2 separate regions of the Homo sapiens genome follow, and region 1 is linked to region 2. The links come from fine-mapping of genetic effects on gene expression. A gene starts in region 2. The other region holds a variant in brackets. All regions are shown on one strand. Distances are between the middles of the regions. Region 1 has its middle 15 kb from the start of VWF. Region 2 holds the start of TNFRSF1A (TNF receptor superfamily member 1A).

The links.
Region 1: its variant is fine-mapped to the expression of TNFRSF1A in whole blood (TOPMed, PIP 0.96).

Annotation. Positions count from the first base shown.
Region 1 is chr12:6,135,197-6,143,677 of GRCh38, reverse strand. No RefSeq gene overlaps it. Among named protein-coding and RNA genes, the nearest start is that of VWF, 15 kb to the right of the region's middle. RefSeq lists an enhancer at 774-1,331. The variant T/C (reference allele first, on the strand shown) is at 4,259.
Region 2 is chr12:6,337,169-6,345,649 of GRCh38, reverse strand. TNFRSF1A (TNF receptor superfamily member 1A) reads left to right here and starts at 3,574. Exons shown (of 10, transcript NM_001065.4): 1 at 3,574-3,874. The coding sequence starts at 3,836. It also overlaps the pseudogene RN7SL391P. RefSeq lists enhancers at 3,672-3,771, 8,330-8,379, 8,153-8,447, 8,440-8,481, 7,846-8,481.

The DNA of each region.
Region 1 (8,481 bases), 200 kb after region 2:
GGTGGGCACCTGTAATCCCAGCTACTCAGGAGGCCGAGGCCAGAGAATCACTTGAACCTGGGAGACAGATGTTGCAGTGAGCTGAGATTGCACCATTGCACTCTAGCCTATGAGACAGAGCAAGACTCCAGCTGGGGGGGGGGGGGGGGGGGAAAGACCTGACAACCAATTCCATGTCAGTTTACCATTGCCATGGCAACACACAGAAGTTACCACCTCTTTTCATGGCAACCACGTGAAAGTTACCACCATTTTTCTAGAAATTTCTGAATAACCCATACTGCGTCTGGAATTGGTGGGTTCTTGGTCTCACTGACTTCAAGAATGAAGCCACAGACCCTCGTAGTTAACAGCTCTTAAAGTGGCACATCTGGAGTCTGTGTCTTCTGACTTTCAGATGTGTTCAGAGTTTCTTCCTTCTGGTGGGTTCATGATCTCCCTGGCTCAGGATTGAAGCTGCAGACCTTTGCGGTGGGCGTTACCACTCTTAAGGCAGTGCATCTGGAGTTGTTCGTTCCTCCCGGTGGGCTCGTGGTTTTGCTGGCCTCAGGAGTGAAGCTGCAGATCTTCACGGTGAGAGTTACAGATCTTAAAAGCAGTGTGCACCCAGAGTGAGCAATAGCAAGATTTATTGCAAAGAGCAAAAGAACGAAGCCTTCACACTGTGGAAGGGGACCGGAGCGGGTTGCCAATGCTGGCTCCGGCAGCCTGCTTTTATTCTCTTATCTGGCCCCACCCACATGCTGCTGATTGGTAGAGCCGAGTGGCCTGTTTTAACAGGGCGCTGATTGGTGCGTTTACAATCCTTGAGCTAGATACAAAGGTTCTCCACGTCCCCATCAGATTAGTTAGATACAGAGTTTCCACACAGAGGTTGTCCAAGGCCCCAGCAGAGCAGCTAGATACAGAGTGTCGATTGGTGCACTCACAAATCTTGAGCTAGACACAGGGTGCTGATTGGTGTGTTTACAATCCCTGAGCTAGATATAAAAACTCTCCACGTCCCCACCAGACTCAGGAGCCCAGCTGGCTTCACCTAGTGGATCCCGCACCTGGGGCTGCAGGTGGAGCTGCCTGCCAGTCCCGCGCTGTGCGCTCTCATTCCTCAGCTCTTGGGTGGTCGATGGGACTGGGCGCCGTGGAGCAGGGGGTGGTGCTCGTCGGGGAGGCTTGGGCCACACGGGAGCCCATGGAGTGGGTGGGAGGCTCAGGCATGGCAGGCTGCAGGTCCCGAGCCCTGCCCCGCGGGAAGGCAGCTAAGGCCCGGCGAGAAATCGAGCGCAGCGCCGGTGGGCCAGCACTGCTGGGGGACCCAGTACACCCTCCACAGCTGCTGGCCCGGGTGCTAAGTCCCTCATTGCCCGGGGCCAGCAGGGCTGGCCGGCTGCTCTGAGTGTGGGGCCCGCCAAGCCCACGCCCACCCGGAACTCCAGCTGACTCGCAAGCGCGGCACGCAGCCCTGCTTCCTGCTCGCGCCTCTCCCTCCACACCTCCCTGCAAGCTGAGGGAGCGGGCTCCAGCCTTGGCCAGCCCAGAAAGTGGCTCCCACAGTGCAGTGGGGGGCTGAAGGGCTCCTCAAATGCCGCCAAAGTGGGAGCCCAGGCAGGGGAGGTGCTGAGAGCAAGCAAGGGCTCTGAGGACTGCCAGCACGCTGTCACCTCTCAATACCTTAACTTGCAAGTAATTGAAAGTGGGTATATGTATGACTGTTGACCTGCCCCTGAGCTGGTGCTCTCAACACATTGCCTAGGGGTTAGCCCTGCTCTGCAGGAGTAGTCATAAAGTTGTCACACTGCTGCCTCCATAAAGCTGTTTTCTTCTACCACCAGCTGGCTCTTGAATTCTTTCCTGAGCAAAGCCAAGAATCTTCCAGGGCTAAGTCCCAATTTGGGAGCTTACTTGCCCTGCATCAGTGCAATCATAGCTCACTGCAGCCTGGAACTTCGGGGCTCAAGCAATCCTCCTGCCTGAGCCTCCTGAATAGCTAAGATGACAGATGTGTGCCACTACACCTGGCTAATTTTTTCTTTTTTTTGTAGACATGAGGTCTCACTTTGTTGCCTAGGCTGATCATTGTTTTTAAAATTTCTATCTTTACTGATTTTTATCTGCCTGACCTATGGATAATTGAGAAAGCCTTTTTGAAGTCAATTGTCAATTTATGTATTTTGAAGCTATTTTGTAAGATGCATATAAATTTGAGTTGCTGTAACTTTCTGCCTCTCAAATTAGAACCCCAGGTCTTGAGATAGTGATTCTGGGGTCAGGAATCCTGCTGTGCTACTACTGGGGCCAGGAATGCCACCAGATGTAATGGTCTGAGTTCTCTGTAGCTCGATAGCAGCAATAATGTGGTGTCATTGTTCCTGAGAACCAGGGAAGATGAGTCTGAAGCTGCACCATTCTTCTGACATTGTAGCGTGGGTGGGTCCTCTCTATTTTGATGATTGTGAAGGAAGTGAGCATGTTATTCTTGCACAAGATGTTTGTCTTTAGAAGAGAGGAAGTAGAGGAGGACAGCTTCCTCTCCGCTGGGGGCTACAGCTTTATGCTGGGAGCTGGTCGTCTGGCCTAAGAAATACTGCTGTGTTTATTTATTTGGCGCATACTGCCAAGAAAATTCTCTTTCCTGCAGAATTTACGTAAGAGAGATGCTACAAATATACAAAGAAAAGACAAAGATGGGTCCTCCTAGAAAACCTTTCCTCCCCTGAGGTTCTTTTGCTTTTGTACTAGTTACCTGGAGAACTTACTCCTCAGACAGGCAGAGGTCAATTTACCCATCCCCCTGCCTCTGAGCAGCCCTGCCCCATGCGCCCCCAGAGGTCACGCACCCTTCCCATTTGTACTTAATGCTGTTTACATCAGCCCAAGTTCTAATGGCTCTCATACTGTGGTCCTCAGGGATCCTTCTTCCTTGAGCCTCACAGCACTAATTGTCCTCTAACTTATTTGGCAAAGCTGCCTTGGGACACCCTCCATGAGGGCAAGGGAGCAGGTTGTGTGGCATGATATCTTGGCCTATATTAGTTTTCTATTGCTGCAGTGACAAATGACCACAAGCTTAGTGGCCTGAAACAACACAAATTTATCTTACAATTCGTAATTGTAAGAAGCTCGAATTGGATCAAAATCAAGGTGTGTTGGAAGAGCTGGATTCCTTCTGTAGGTTCTATGGGAGAACCTGTTCTTCGCCTCTATCCACTTCCAGGGGCACACATTCCTTGCCTCGTGGCCCCGCGTTGCATGACCTCTGCTCGCATCATCACATCTCCTTCCCTGATGCTGACCCTCCTGCTCCTCTTATAAAAACTCTTGTGATTATATCGGCCCAGCAGGATACTCTGGGGTAAGCCAGGATCATCTCCCCATCTCAAGACCCTTAACTTGCTCACATCTGCAAAATCCCTTTTGCCATGTAAGGTAGCATTCAGAGGTTTGAGATGGGATGTAGACATCTTTGGCTGTTCTTCTGCTACCGTAATGTGTTACGTGGTTGGCTGTATCTGCTCTTCTCTTGTCAAACCCATGGTCTCCTCCAGGCCCTCGTCTTCCCTGTCCGGGAAGGTTCCACCAACCACTAATGGATCTCCCTTTCTCCATCTGACCTCTCACAATACATGCCACTGCTGCCAGAGGGCCTCATCTGGTGTCACAGGATGAACATAAACCCCTACACTGGTTGAAGGTCCCTGAGGACTTGCCTCTTATTCCTCTCTTTGGTCTCTTTTCCTGTGAGTCTCCTTTATAGGCTGTAACAACTGGCTTATTCACCTACTTACTGATTTAGCATCTCAGAGCTTGCCTGCTTCTAAGCTTTTACTTCCTTCCTTGCAGCTGATGTGCCTTTGCCCTCATTTTCACCTGGCAAAATCCTACTCAGCAAATGGGTAATTAAACCATTGCAACCATTATAAACCATTGCAATTTTTCAGGGGGGCCATTTGGCCTTATTGTCAAAGGCCTCACTGAAAATGTGGACGGTGGCTGACCCAGTGCTCCACATGTAGGATTTCATCCTGTGGGAGTAATCCTGAGGGTTGTGCATGGATATAGCTTCAAAGATGTTCACTGCAGCATTGTTAATTAAAAAAAAAAAAAAGTAGGCCGGGAGTGGTGGCTCACGCCTGTAATCCCAGCACTTTGGGAGGCAGAGGCGGGCGGATCACGAGGTCAGGAGATTGAGGCCATCCTGGTTAACGCGGTGAAACCCTGTCTCTACTAAAAATACAAAAAATTAGCCGGGTGTAGTGGCGGG[T/C]GCCTGTAGTCCCAGCTACTCGGGAGGCTGAGGCAGGAGAATGGCATGAACCCAGGAGGTGGAGCTTGCAGTGAGCCGAGATTGCGCCACTGCACTCCAGCCTGGGTGACAGAGCGAGACTGCATCTCAAAAAAAAAAAAAAAAAAAAAAAAGTAGCACTAACCTAAATAAATATCCCATAATATGGAACTGGTTACATAAATTGTGGAATATCAGTAAGTGAACTATTCCAGCCAAGTGTGTTATACTCTGATAAAACAGACACTTGAGTGTTATTTAGAAATAGTGCCAGAGTGTCATATGAGTTACAGGCGCAGAATACCACATGGGAACGTGACCCCAGTCTGATGTCCCTGCCCCCTTGCAGAGCCATCCTGTGACTTTCACCGTGCAATTTCCCCAACCACAGTGACGAGTGCTATCTTCTGTGCTGATGATTTGGAGAGCAGGCAACAACTTCCTTGGGTATTAAGCAATTTTTTTTATCTGCAGTTTCAGTTCTGTAGCTACATTTTAATATTATATGCTAATTAACCCACATCATTGTTCTACTAGCAGGGAGTTCAACAGACATTTATGGAGCACTTACCATGTGCTATGCTCCAGACAGAGCACTTTGGAAGATACAGAGATGAGTAAGGCAAGGTCTTGTTCTAAGGAGAGCTCAGACTGGAGGAGATAAGACAAACAAAAATGCATGAAAAGGCTGGGAGCGGTGGCTCATGCCCATAATCCTAACACTTTGGGAGGACGAGGCGGGCAGATCACGAGGTCAGGAGATCAAGACCATCCTGGTAACACGGTGAAACCTCGTCTCTACTAAAAATATAAAAACAAAAAATTAGCTGAGTGTGGCGGTGGGCGTCTGTAGTCCCAGCTACTCGGGAGGCTGAGGTGGGAGAATGGCGTGAACCAGGGAGGCAGAGGTTGCAGTGAACCAAGATCGCGCCATTGCACTCCAGCCTGGGCAACAGAGCGAGACTCCGTCTCAAAAAAAAGAAAAATGCATGAAAAGATGAGAGGGCCACAGAAGCACCCAGAGGTGGTTCAAAGGCAGGAAAAGCGGGGGTGAAGGGTGGGAGGAAAGGAGAAAAGGCTTATGGAAGAGTTATAGGTATAGTGGAGAAAACACGGACTTTGTAATCAGGTAGATTCAGATGCTGGCTGCCTTTGGTAGCAGTGTGATCCTAGGCAAGGCCCTTACCCTGTCTGAGCCTCAGCATCCTCAACTATAAAATGAGAGTAACGCTCTCTTTCCCTCAAACGGTTGTTAGAAGGTACAGTGGATTGAATGGTGACCCCCAAAAGACATGTCCACATTCTAACTCCTGGACCCTGTGAATGTGACCTTACTTGGAAAAAGGCTTTTTGCAGATGTAATTAAGGATGTCAAGATAGATCACCCTAGATTACTAGATCCTTAGGCGGGGTGTGGTGGCTCACGCCTGTAATCCCAGCACTTTGGGAGGCCGAAGTGGGCAGATCACTTGAGGCCAGGAGTTTGAGACCAGACTGGCTAACATGGCAAAACCCTGTCTACTAAAAATACCAAAAAAAAAAAAAAAAAAAAAAAAGGCTGGGTGTGGTGGTGGTGCCTGTAATCCCAGCTACTCGGGAGGCTGAGGCAGGAGAATCACTTGAACCTCGGAGGTGAAGGCTGCAGTGAGTCAAGATTGTGCCACTGCAATCCAGCCTGGGTGATAGAGTGAGACTCCACCTTGACAAAAACAAAGAGGCTGGGTGCGGTGGCTCTCGCCTGTAATCCCAGCACTTTGGGAGGCTGAGGCGGGTGGATCACCTGAGGTCAGGAGTTCAAGACCAGTCTGGGCAACATGGTGAAACCCTGTCTCTACTAAAAATACAAAAATCCGCTGGGTGTGTTGGCACGTACCTGTAATCCTGGTTACCTGGAAGGCTGAGGCAAGAGAATCACTTGAGCCAGGTAGGCAGAGGTTGCAGTGAGCTGAGATTGCACCATTGCACTCCAGCCTGGGTGACAGTGAGACTCCGACTCAAACAAACAAAAAAACCAAAAAAAGATTACTAGGTCCTTCCAGATTACTTAGATTCAATGTCAGGTGTTCTTATAAGAAATATACAGTGGGAGACACACAGGGAGATGAGGAGAGAGCCATGTGAAGACAGAGGCTGAGATTAGAGTGATGCTGCCACAAGCCAAGGAAAGTCTGAAGCCACCAGAAGCTGGAAGAGGTGAGGAAGGTCTCTCCCTTACAGCCTTTGTGGACACCTTGATTTCAGACTTCTTCCTTTCAAAACTGTGGGAGAAGACATTTGTGCTGTTCTAAGCCACTCGGTTTGTGGTGATTTGTTACGGCAGCACTGGGACACTCACAGAGGAGGATGAAGTAACACAGTGTTCACAAGCAGCTAGCAGAGTATCTGGTACTTGCAAGGTGTTCACCAAATGACAAATTCTCCCTCTGCAGGAGGGGGACATGGAAGGATGAACAGGAGAGAGGAGGAGTGGGGAGGAGGCAGGACATTTGGATGGTGGAACAGTGTGAGCTGAACACAAGAGGTGTCTGGGAAGCAATGCCTCCGGGGACCAATCAGACATTCTGGGGTGCAGGGTGTGGGGTCAGGGTGGACGTGGGCGTGTGCTCAGCAAGGGTGCAGGAGGAAGGCACGTGTGCTGACTGTTGGATGGGAGGTTGGAGAAGAAGGGCCCACCGAAAGGGAAAGAGGCAGGCTGCTGGGGCTCCTCCTCGCCCTGGGGCCTTCCACCTGGGCTGCTCCTGCCTGGCCTCTAGTGCCTTGGTGCTCCTGGTGGAGCTGAAGCAGTGCTTGAGGCCATGCCAGAGGAAAGTCGCTGGGCTGCTGGTCATTAAAGGAGTCATAATGGGCTTGGGAAGAAGGAAGCAGCAAGTGGGATGGAGTGAAGATTTCAGATCCTTGAGTTTGTTTACTGAGCACCTGGTAACCCCCTGGATTCTTCTGTCAACCTGGCTATGAACATGTAATCAAGGATGGCAAGATAGATCATCCTAGATTACTAGATCCTTAGGTCAGGCATGGTGGCTCACACCTGTAATCCCAGCACTTTGGGAGGCCGAGGTGGGCGGATCACCTGAGATCAGGAGTTTGAGACCAGCTTGACCAACATAGTAAAACCCAGTCTTTATTAAAAAGTACAAAAGTTAGCTGGGTGTGGTGGCACATGCCTGTAATCTCAGCCACCTGGGAGGCTGAGGCAGGAGAATGGCGTGAACCTGGGAGGCGGAGCTTGCAGTGAGCCGAGATCTCGCCACCGCACTCCAGACTGGGTGACAGAGCAAGACTCCATATCAAAAAAAAAAAAAAAAAAAAGAAAAAGAAAAAGAACATGAGATGATTCCTCAAACTCCTGTACATCAAAAAACAAACAACAAAAAAAACCCTCATCAATATATATTAAAGTGAAGAACTGAAAAAAAAAATCCTCATATCAATGTGAGAAAACACTAACATTTTTAATCTTTAAAGAGCTTTTATAGATCAATATAGATAAGCATCTCAGTTAAAAATGAGCTAAAGACATGAACAAGAAATTCACAAAAGAAGAAATACACATCGACAATGTTAGAAAATGTTCTCCCAATAATGAAAGGAATGAGTATTAAAGTAACAATCTTTTTTTTTTTTTAAGACGGAGTCTTGCTCTGTCGCCCAGGCTGGAGTGCAGTGGCGTGATCTCAGCTCTCTGCAAGCTCCGCCTCCCGGGTTCACGCCATTCTCCTGCCTCAGCCTCCCGAGTAGCTGGGACTACAGGCGCCCGCCACCGTGCCCCGCTAATTTTTTTTGTATTTTTAGTAGAGACGGGGTTTCACCGTGGTCTCCATCTTCTGACCTCGTGATCCACCCACCTCAGCCTCCCAAAGTGCTGGGATTACAGGCGTGAACCATGGCGCCTGGCCTAAAGTAATAATCTTATAATAGTTTTTGCCACTTACATTACCAAATCTGTAATAAAAAATAATAATGCTATAGAAGGGTAAATTGGTAAAGTTCTTGGGAGGATATATAAAAGGCTTAATTTTTGTGCCCTTTGACCGAGCAATTTCTTTTACTTCTAGGAATTTGTTTCAAGGAAATGGGCTGTGTGTGTGAGGATTTATGTACAGGATGTTGGTCACCCTGCTATTTGTAAGGCAAAGCCAATATTTCCACGTCACTTGGCTTCAGAGCTTTATCTTTTAAGTGAAACTTTCAACCACAGAGAAAAC
Region 2 (8,481 bases):
CTCATTTTCCTTATCAGGCTTAGTAGTTGAAGTGACTTGCTGAGCTTCATAATTCTTAGAGAACCTGCCATGAACCCAGCTCCCTTTCTATGACTCACCCTGCCACCCTGTGACACATAGAGTCTGAATGGCAGGTCTGGGGCTAGAACCCACGTCATCTGGACTTGGAGTCCAGTGACCCTTTGGGTTAAGCATGTGTGTGTGTGTGTGTGTGCCATGATGCGGGAGGAAGGTCCCTGCTCTCTGTAGCTGTTTTCTTCATCCTTTGCTCTACAAGCCCTAACAGCCGATTCTGTCATCCCTAGTCTGCCCCTCTCCTGTTTCTCCATCTCCTCTGACCATGATTTTTTTCTGTCCCTGGAGGGATGATGGTCTCATTCTCACCTCCTCCACGAAACGTGTTAGCTTTTCATATTCCTAGATCCACTCACTTCTCATCATCTTTTTTTTTAAACAAAATTTTATTGAAAAATGTAATATGACGTGTCAAAGTTGTAAAGTTATTGAGTAAATAAGCATGTATCCTAAATATTGAAAAATATTCTCCTTTTGTACCAGGCTATGTGTCACGGCTTTGGCGCTTTGCACAGACTATTAGAAATACCTTATAACATTAAAAATAGGACATTGAGGCCGGGCGTGGTGGCTCATGCCTGTAATCCCAGCACTTTGGGAGGCCAGGGTGGGTGGATCACCTGAAGTCAGGAGTTTGAGACCAGCCTGGCTAACACGGTGAAACCCCGTCTCTACTAAATACAAAAAATTAGCCGGGCATGATGGCACATGCCTATAATCCTAGCTACTCGGGAGGCTGAGGCAGGAGAATTGCTTGAATCCGGGAGTCAGAGGTTGCAGTGAGCCGAGATTGTGCCACTGCACTTCAGCCTGGGCAACAAGAGTGAAACTCTATCAAAAAAAAAAATAGGACATTGAAGTTGGTTTCTTTTTTTGATACAGAGTCTCGCTCTGTCACCCAGGCTGGAGTGCACTGGCAGGATCTCGGCTCACTGCAACCTCTGCCTCCTGGGTTCAAGCAATTCTCCTGCCTCAGCCTCCTGAGTAGCTGGGATTACAGGCACGCGCCACCACGCCTGGCTAATTTTGTATATTTAGTAGAGACAGGGTTTCACCATGTTGGTCAGGTTGGTCTCGAACTCCTGACCTTGTGATCCGCCCACCTCAGCCTCCCAAAGTGCTGGGATTGCAGGCGTGAGCCACCGCACTCTGCTTTTTTTTTTTTTTTTTGCCGCCCTCTCACATACCATACTCCCCTGTATCACTTATCCTTCTGAAGTTGTTATTAATCATTAATACAACTAGCTGGGCATAGTGGTGTGCGATGGTAGTCTTAGCCACTCGGAAGGCTGATGTGGGAGGCTAGCTTGAGGCCAGTAGTTCTAGGTTAGGTGAGCTATGATTGCACCATTGCACTTTAGCCTGGGTGAGAGCAAGCTCCTGTTTCAAAAAAAAAATTAATTGCTACCACTTACTAAATGCTTAATATATGGCAAACACTTGCCAAACACTTTATATGCTTGATTTAAGCATCAAGCTAGCTCTGTGAAGGGTACCAGCAGGTTTCCCATTTTTTAGATGAGCAGACCGAGGTTCTTCTCGCTGCTTCATACTGGAAACTTGCACTTGATTCTGAGGCTCCTGCTTCTTCAAGAACACTGCTTTGGGTTCGCTTCTCCTGTCCCTGGGGTCTCCCTTTGTGATGGTGGTGAGCTGCTTCCTTTCTGAATCCAGCTTCAACCCTACAGTTCTCCAGAAGCTGGACGATGGGGTGGAGTAAAGTCAGCTCCCCCCGCAGTGAGGGACACTGAAGCTCCATTCTCATCTGCGGATCACAGAGGGGAAGCCAGGAAGAGCCAGGGGACGGTGGACTTGGGGCTGGGAGGTCATCTCAGAGGGATAAGGGGTGAGGAGCTCTGGTTTCAAGTTCCAAAGCCCTAGGACCTCCCTCTTCTCTGTCTGCCTGCATTTCTAGCAGCCTCAGCAGCTGCAGGCCCTTGGGCGGGGCTGGATGTAGGGAAGGTCATTGTACCAAGAAGATAGTTGGGTAAATGTGGTACCTTTGTTGTAGGATTCTCTTGGGAGATGTCTGCATCAATGAGGATGGCATAAAGTAACCAGAGTCAGGATGTGGGGTCTGACTCAGTGACAGAAAAAGTGGCAGTGTGTCTCTCATAGCCAAAGGGGCCCTTGGACCGGCAGTCGGGAGTCTGGGGTTCTCTGTTGGCTCTGCCTCCTGGCACATTGGGTTTCTGGACCTCAGTTTTCTCCTCTATAAAACCGGGCAGTTGGGTGGGCACGGTGGCTCACACCTGTAATCCTAGCACTTTAGGAGGCTGAGGTGGGCAGATCATTTGGGCCCAGGAGTTCAAGACCTGCCTGTGTAACATGGTGAGACCCTGTCTCTACAAAAAATACAAAAATTACCCAGGCGTGGTGGTATGCACCTATAGTCCCAGCTGCTTGGGAGGCTGAGGTGGGAGGATTACTTGAACCTGGGAGGTCGAGGCTGCAGTGAGCTGCGATGGTACCACTGCACTCCAGCCTGGGAAACGGAGCGGACCCTCAAAACAAAAACAAAAATGAAAAACAAGCAAACGAAGAAATAAAAAAACCTAGGGGGTTGTAGTCGATGATCTGTAAGGTGAGTTATAATTGATGTATTGGAATATTTAGGAAAAGGGCACTGGGAATATGCTAGGAACACCTGATGGAGGTATCTTTATTTCCACGGCAGCTTCGTGGATACGTCTCATTGATTCTCATGGCATCACTTTCCCCATGTAGGTGGGCAGACATTGTTACCCCTGTTTAATAAACAAGGAACCAACAGAGGCTTAGGAGAGGAGTTGCCTGATGTCGCATGATTGGTGGCAGAGCCAGGATCAACAGTGGGGCAGGGTGGGGGGACCTGGCCAGGCAGAGACTGGATGAGACCTGGGGTGAGGAATGGCAGGCACCCAGTCAGGGCAGAAAACGAGGGTTGGGACTTACTTTGAGTTTTGGATTGGATCAGTAAATTCCCAAGAAAGAGGGAGACTAGGAGGCTAGTGAAGAACTCTGGAGTAAAGGGGAGGATTACTAAGGGACATGGAGTACCTATCATGTGTCGGACGCTTATCTATATCTCTCCCATCTGAACAAATCCTTACAGGAACCCCAGGAGACAGGTTATCTCCACTCTGCAAATTGGAAAACAGATCCAGACAGTTTCAGTTATGTGTCTGAGAAGTTCATTTATGTGTCCAAGACACATTCTTAGCTAAAAAGCTAAGCATTCTGAATTGGAACCCAGAGAATTTGACTCCCAGACTCTGGATCTTTTCACTGCTGTGATCCATCTGGGAAAGGCTAGTGATGTGGGCAAGGGGCTTATTGCCCCTTGGTGTTTGGTTGGGAGTGGTCGGATTGGTGGGTTGGGGGCACAAGGCAGCCAGATCTGGGACTCCTGTGCTTGTGACTGGACTACAAAGAGTTAAAGAACGTTGGGCCTCCTCCTCCCGCCTCCTGTGGCCTCCTCCTCCAGCTCTTCCTGTCCCGCTGTTGCAACACTGCCTCACTCTTCCCCTCCCACCTTCTCTCCCCTCCTCTCTGCTTTAATTTTCTCAGAATTCTCTGGACTGAGGCTCCAGTTCTGGCCTTTGGGGTTCAAGATCACTGGGACCAGGCCGTGATCTCTATGCCCGAGTCTCAACCCTCAACTGTCACCCCAAGGCACTTGGGACGTCCTGGACAGACCGAGTCCCGGGAAGCCCCAGCACTGCCGCTGCCACACTGCCCTGAGCCCAAATGGGGGAGTGAGAGGCCATAGCTGTCTGGCATGGGCCTCTCCACCGTGCCTGACCTGCTGCTGCCACTGGTGAGACCAGGGACAAAGGGAAGAGTGGGCTGGTGGGCGAGGCACCTTCCGGCTGGCGTGGGCCCTCTCCGGGAGGGGGCCGAGCCTCTCCTGCCCGGGCCTGGTCCTGGCGCCAGCCTCAGGCCTGCAGGTCCTAACCTCAGCCACTGCCAGTGTGGGGTTCCCCATTCATCCGCCTTTTGGAGTAGGGGCTGCGCTGAGGCAGGGGAATGGGAGAAGTTTGAAAGGGAGAGAGTAAAAGGAAGCCCTGGCCCCTGACAGCGGTGGAAGTTTGTGGGCGGCCAAGGGAATGTGGGCAGGAGATAGGCCCAGGGTGGGGCAGATTTGGCGGGGAAAAGAAGGGAGTGGGAGTAGGAAGATTAGTGCTCGGGGAGTCCAGACGGTTCTGAATTCTGTCCCTCCGGTCAGCTGGCTGGCCTGGAGGGTGTTGGGCCGTGGGGAGGCGAGGCTGCCTGTGGAACTTGGTGGAGCACACCCTGTAGGGCAGGATTTTGGCGGCTGGTGAAGTGGGGGAGTGAGTTGAGGAGTGGGGATGGGCTGGTGTGGTGGGTTTGGGATGCTCATGGTGGGAGGTATTTGAGAATGGGCTGGGACACTGGATGGGGCAGGGCAACCCAGTGGACAGTGTCCCCAGTGCCCTGGCCAAGCCCCGGCCTCTCACCTGGGGACATTCTTTACCCTTTTGCCTGCTGCTAGGCAGGTAGCCGCTGTGGGACTGAGCCTTCCCAGGGAGCTAGTCCTACCCCCACCTGGTCAGTGTCCCTGGGCCTGTCCTCCAGCTTCCCCTCCCCGCTGCTTCTCACAGACCTAAACAACAATCCCTTGGTTTCTTATTCTACAGTTCAGTTTGGGGAAGTTGGTAGAAAGTTGTTTTCGTCACTGGAAAATGTCCCTTTCTCTGGCCTCAGCCTTGTTTCAATGTATCCTTGATCGTCCTCCACGTCTTGGTCCGGGAATCATCCTGTTCAGATGTCCTGGGCCCATCTAGTCAGGCAGATTTTCCCTGCCCTGCCCGGCCTCTGAAGGCTGCGCCTACCTCCCCTCTCTTTAGTGCCTTATACTCTTCCTCTCCTACCATTCCTTTCTTCCAGCAATCTCCCCAGACTCTCCTCAGACTTCTCAGAGCCTCTTTTTTTGAAATCTTTTCTCGCTAATCCTCCTTCCCCTCCTCTCTGCTCCGCTCTGGTCCCGGCCCCAGGTCCCCAGGCAGCACGTCTCTGGTCAGGGTCTCACTCTTCTTCTTCTGCCTCCTCCTGCCTCCTTAGTCCCACCCGCTCTTCCCTTCTTCCCACTGTCCTTCCCCCACGGTCTCCCCACCAGCCAGCTGCCCTGACATCCTGCTTCTGTTTTCTGTTTGGGGGCGGCCCCTGGCTCCCTCACATACCTCCTGCATGAACAAGAGCAGCTTATATAACCTAACCTTCCATGCCTTCGTTTCTTTATCTCCAAAATGGGTGTCACAGTCTTGACCTCATACTGTTGTTTTGAAGATTGAATAGACTGATACATGTTAAGTGTTCATTTGATTTATTAAGTGTGCGCTCTGGGCTAGACACTGTGATAGGTGCTGGGATTACAGCAGAGAACAAAATCCCTGCCCACAGCTTTGACAGTCCATCAGGGGAATAGGTTGTAGCAAATAGAAAGCACTCAATAAAGTTTTTATATTGCTGTGACTAGTAGTAATTACTGGGTGGCTACCTGTGTTGGGAAAACAGAGGGTAAAGGTAGCCTGAACAGGTAAAGGGAAGTGCCTGCGTCCTGGGGTGCTTCAGCCCAGGTGGGATTATGTCTCCTAAGGGACAGAAGCCTGGCCTGGAGCTGGAGGAAAGGGAAAACAAAGGGAATGCAACATCCTTCTGAATTTCTCACCATTCAGTGGGCAATGCAGAGCTCACAGTGTGTGTGTGTGTGTGTGTGTGTGTGTGTGTGTGAGAGAGAGAGAGAGAGAGAGAGAGAAGTGGGGTAGGGGAGTAGGGAAGAATGATACAGGAGAGACTGTGGCAAAGCAAACAGGATTTTGCTGCTCTCAAAGAGCTTACAGCCTAGTAACCAAGATGGCTTACAGTGAAAAATGATTTCAGAGCAATCCCGAGGAAAATATCCACAAATGCATTGTGATGTGGTGTCCTGGAGCACCAGTTGGGAGGAGGAGGAACTGGGGAAGGAGGTGAGCCTTAGTCCACTGCCTTTCCTTGCTTAGCAGGTCTCAGCTCCTGCGCTCAGCTCCAGAAAATTCAGGAGCTTCCCCACGCTGCTTCAGTGTCCTTCACTGTGCAACTGCAGCACTCCCTGTATAGATCTCAGTGCCTACAACTGACTGTCTTTGACTCAAGTGAGAGCTCTTGAGAGCACGAGCTGTGTATTATCCACCTCAGCATCCCTAGCACCCATACGGGACCTGTCACATTAACTGTGCCCCTTAACTATTTGCTGAAGGAATTAAGGAACAAGAGATGTGTCAGATGGGATGGCGGAGGGAAAGCCTCATAGAAAAGTGGATGTGGAGCTGACATCTGAAGTCACTGCCTGTCAGGGTAGCTATAAAGGAGGGAAGCAGAGTTGGATACTGATGTGAGGAAGAGGAGAGGAATGGAGAGATGGGATTTTGTGTTGATGGGCAGGGTGGCAGGAAGCCAGACACCTTGGTTCGGGAGTGGAAAAACCATGTTGAGAAACACTAAGAAATGTGAATGGGAGAATTAGAGGGAGTGGGGGAGAGGATGGAGGAAGAGTGTTGAATATGGTTCCAGGTGGAGGAATTCATTCATTCGTTTATTCAGAAGCTGTTCTCCTAGGGCACATTCTGTGCCCAGACTGTGATTAGAAGTGAGGTGAGGCATCTCAGATGGGTGCTGTGGTTCATGCCTGTAATTCCAGCACTTCAGGAGGCCGAGGTGTGTGGATTGCTTGAGTCCAGGAGTTCGAGACCAGCCTGGGCAACACAGCAAAACCCTGTCTCTACAAAAAATACAAAGATTAGCGGGGCATGGTGGGGCGTGCTTGTCATCCCAGCTATTCGGGAGACTGAGCTCGGGAGGACGGCTTGGGCCCAGGAGGTGGAGGTTGTAGTGAGCCCTGACCACACCACTACATTCCGTCCTGGTGGTGAAGGTTGCAGTGAGCTATGATTGTGCCACTGCACTTCACCCTGGGTGACAGAGTGAGACCCTGTTTCAAAAAAAAAAAAAAAAAAGTAGTGAGGCATCTGTGGAAGTCTTCAGATCATTTCCATGACCATGGAAATGCTGTTTGGAGCCAGGCCCTGGAGATGGAGAGGAAGGTTCACACACTTGTGCGTGCAAGTTAAAGCCTGAATGAAGATTTAAAAAGTGTGTAGGACGGATGGGAGCAGGAGAGAGGCTAGAAGACACTTGCAATAACCCAGGTGTGAGGCAACCCAGGAATGCGGAGAGGACCGAGAGATCACAGGGGGAGGCCTCGCAAGATGAACTGACACATGGGATGGCGGCAGGGATAGGGATGGGGCCCTGGGGAGAGAGCGTGGCAAGTTCTCAGCATTCGTCCGGGAAGTCGATGGTGTGTCATTTGTCTAGGTGAGGAGATGGATGAATTCCGTCTGGGGCATGTTAAGGGTCAGGGAAATGGTCATGTGGAAGGGTGCGCCTACCAAGCTGGAGGAGAGGTGCTGCAACTTCTTTCTGCCTTTGTATCATTCAGACACACTGTGTTCACTCATCAGTGGTTCTCAAAAGGAGAGGAGCACACCAGACTCTTAAGTAAGGGTGTGTGTGCTTGTGTGTGGGGAGGTGGGGGGATGGTCTGAAAACTCTCCCCCGGAGATAAATATATTCCTACCAGGGGTGCTGTCTCCTCACCTCCCTCTTTGGGAATCACTGGCTTCTACTAGAGTGGAAGACAGATGTATCATTAGATCGATCAGTTGATCCATATTTATCTGCTCCCAGTCTGGAGGTCTGGTTCTGGGAGCTGAGAGGACACCAGGGGAGGATAAGACACTTTCTGACCAAGACATTTTTTGATCTCTCATCTTATAAGGTTCGTGGTCACTTTGGGGAGATCATATCTGTCACCCAACATAACCATATTATGATAAGAGCCAAAAGTAGATAGGGTCAGTTCACGTGCTTCGAGTTCACAGGGACTATGGGTCTAAGGAGCCGGGGTGGAGGAAACAGACATCGTCAATGGTGGCTTCACGGGAGGGAGATGGGATCTCAACTGGGCCCTTGGAGGAGAAGCTGCCACGACCTCCCCCAACACCTTGACATTAAATGAACAGACACATGAATGAGGGGGAAAGGAAGACTAATTGGGTCCCTGCAAGGTGGCTGGATCGGGGTCAGACCACAAGGCCGATCTCAGCGTCGCCTCCCCACTCTGCAGCCCCAGCACAGGAAGTCACACTTTAAAGCCTCCTCTGGCGGAAATTGTGGGGGAGTTGGAGGGGTGTTGGGCCACCCCCTCAACTGTCTCTCCACAGGCACCCCAGCTTCCTGCCCTTCTGCTCCAGGCTGGAGTCTGGGCCTAAAGAGCTCACCTCCTGTTTCTCCTGTTTTGCTTCATTTACGCAACTGCTGAGGACTGGGCTTACTGGGGCCAGCTGGTGCCAGCAGTGGTGCCCA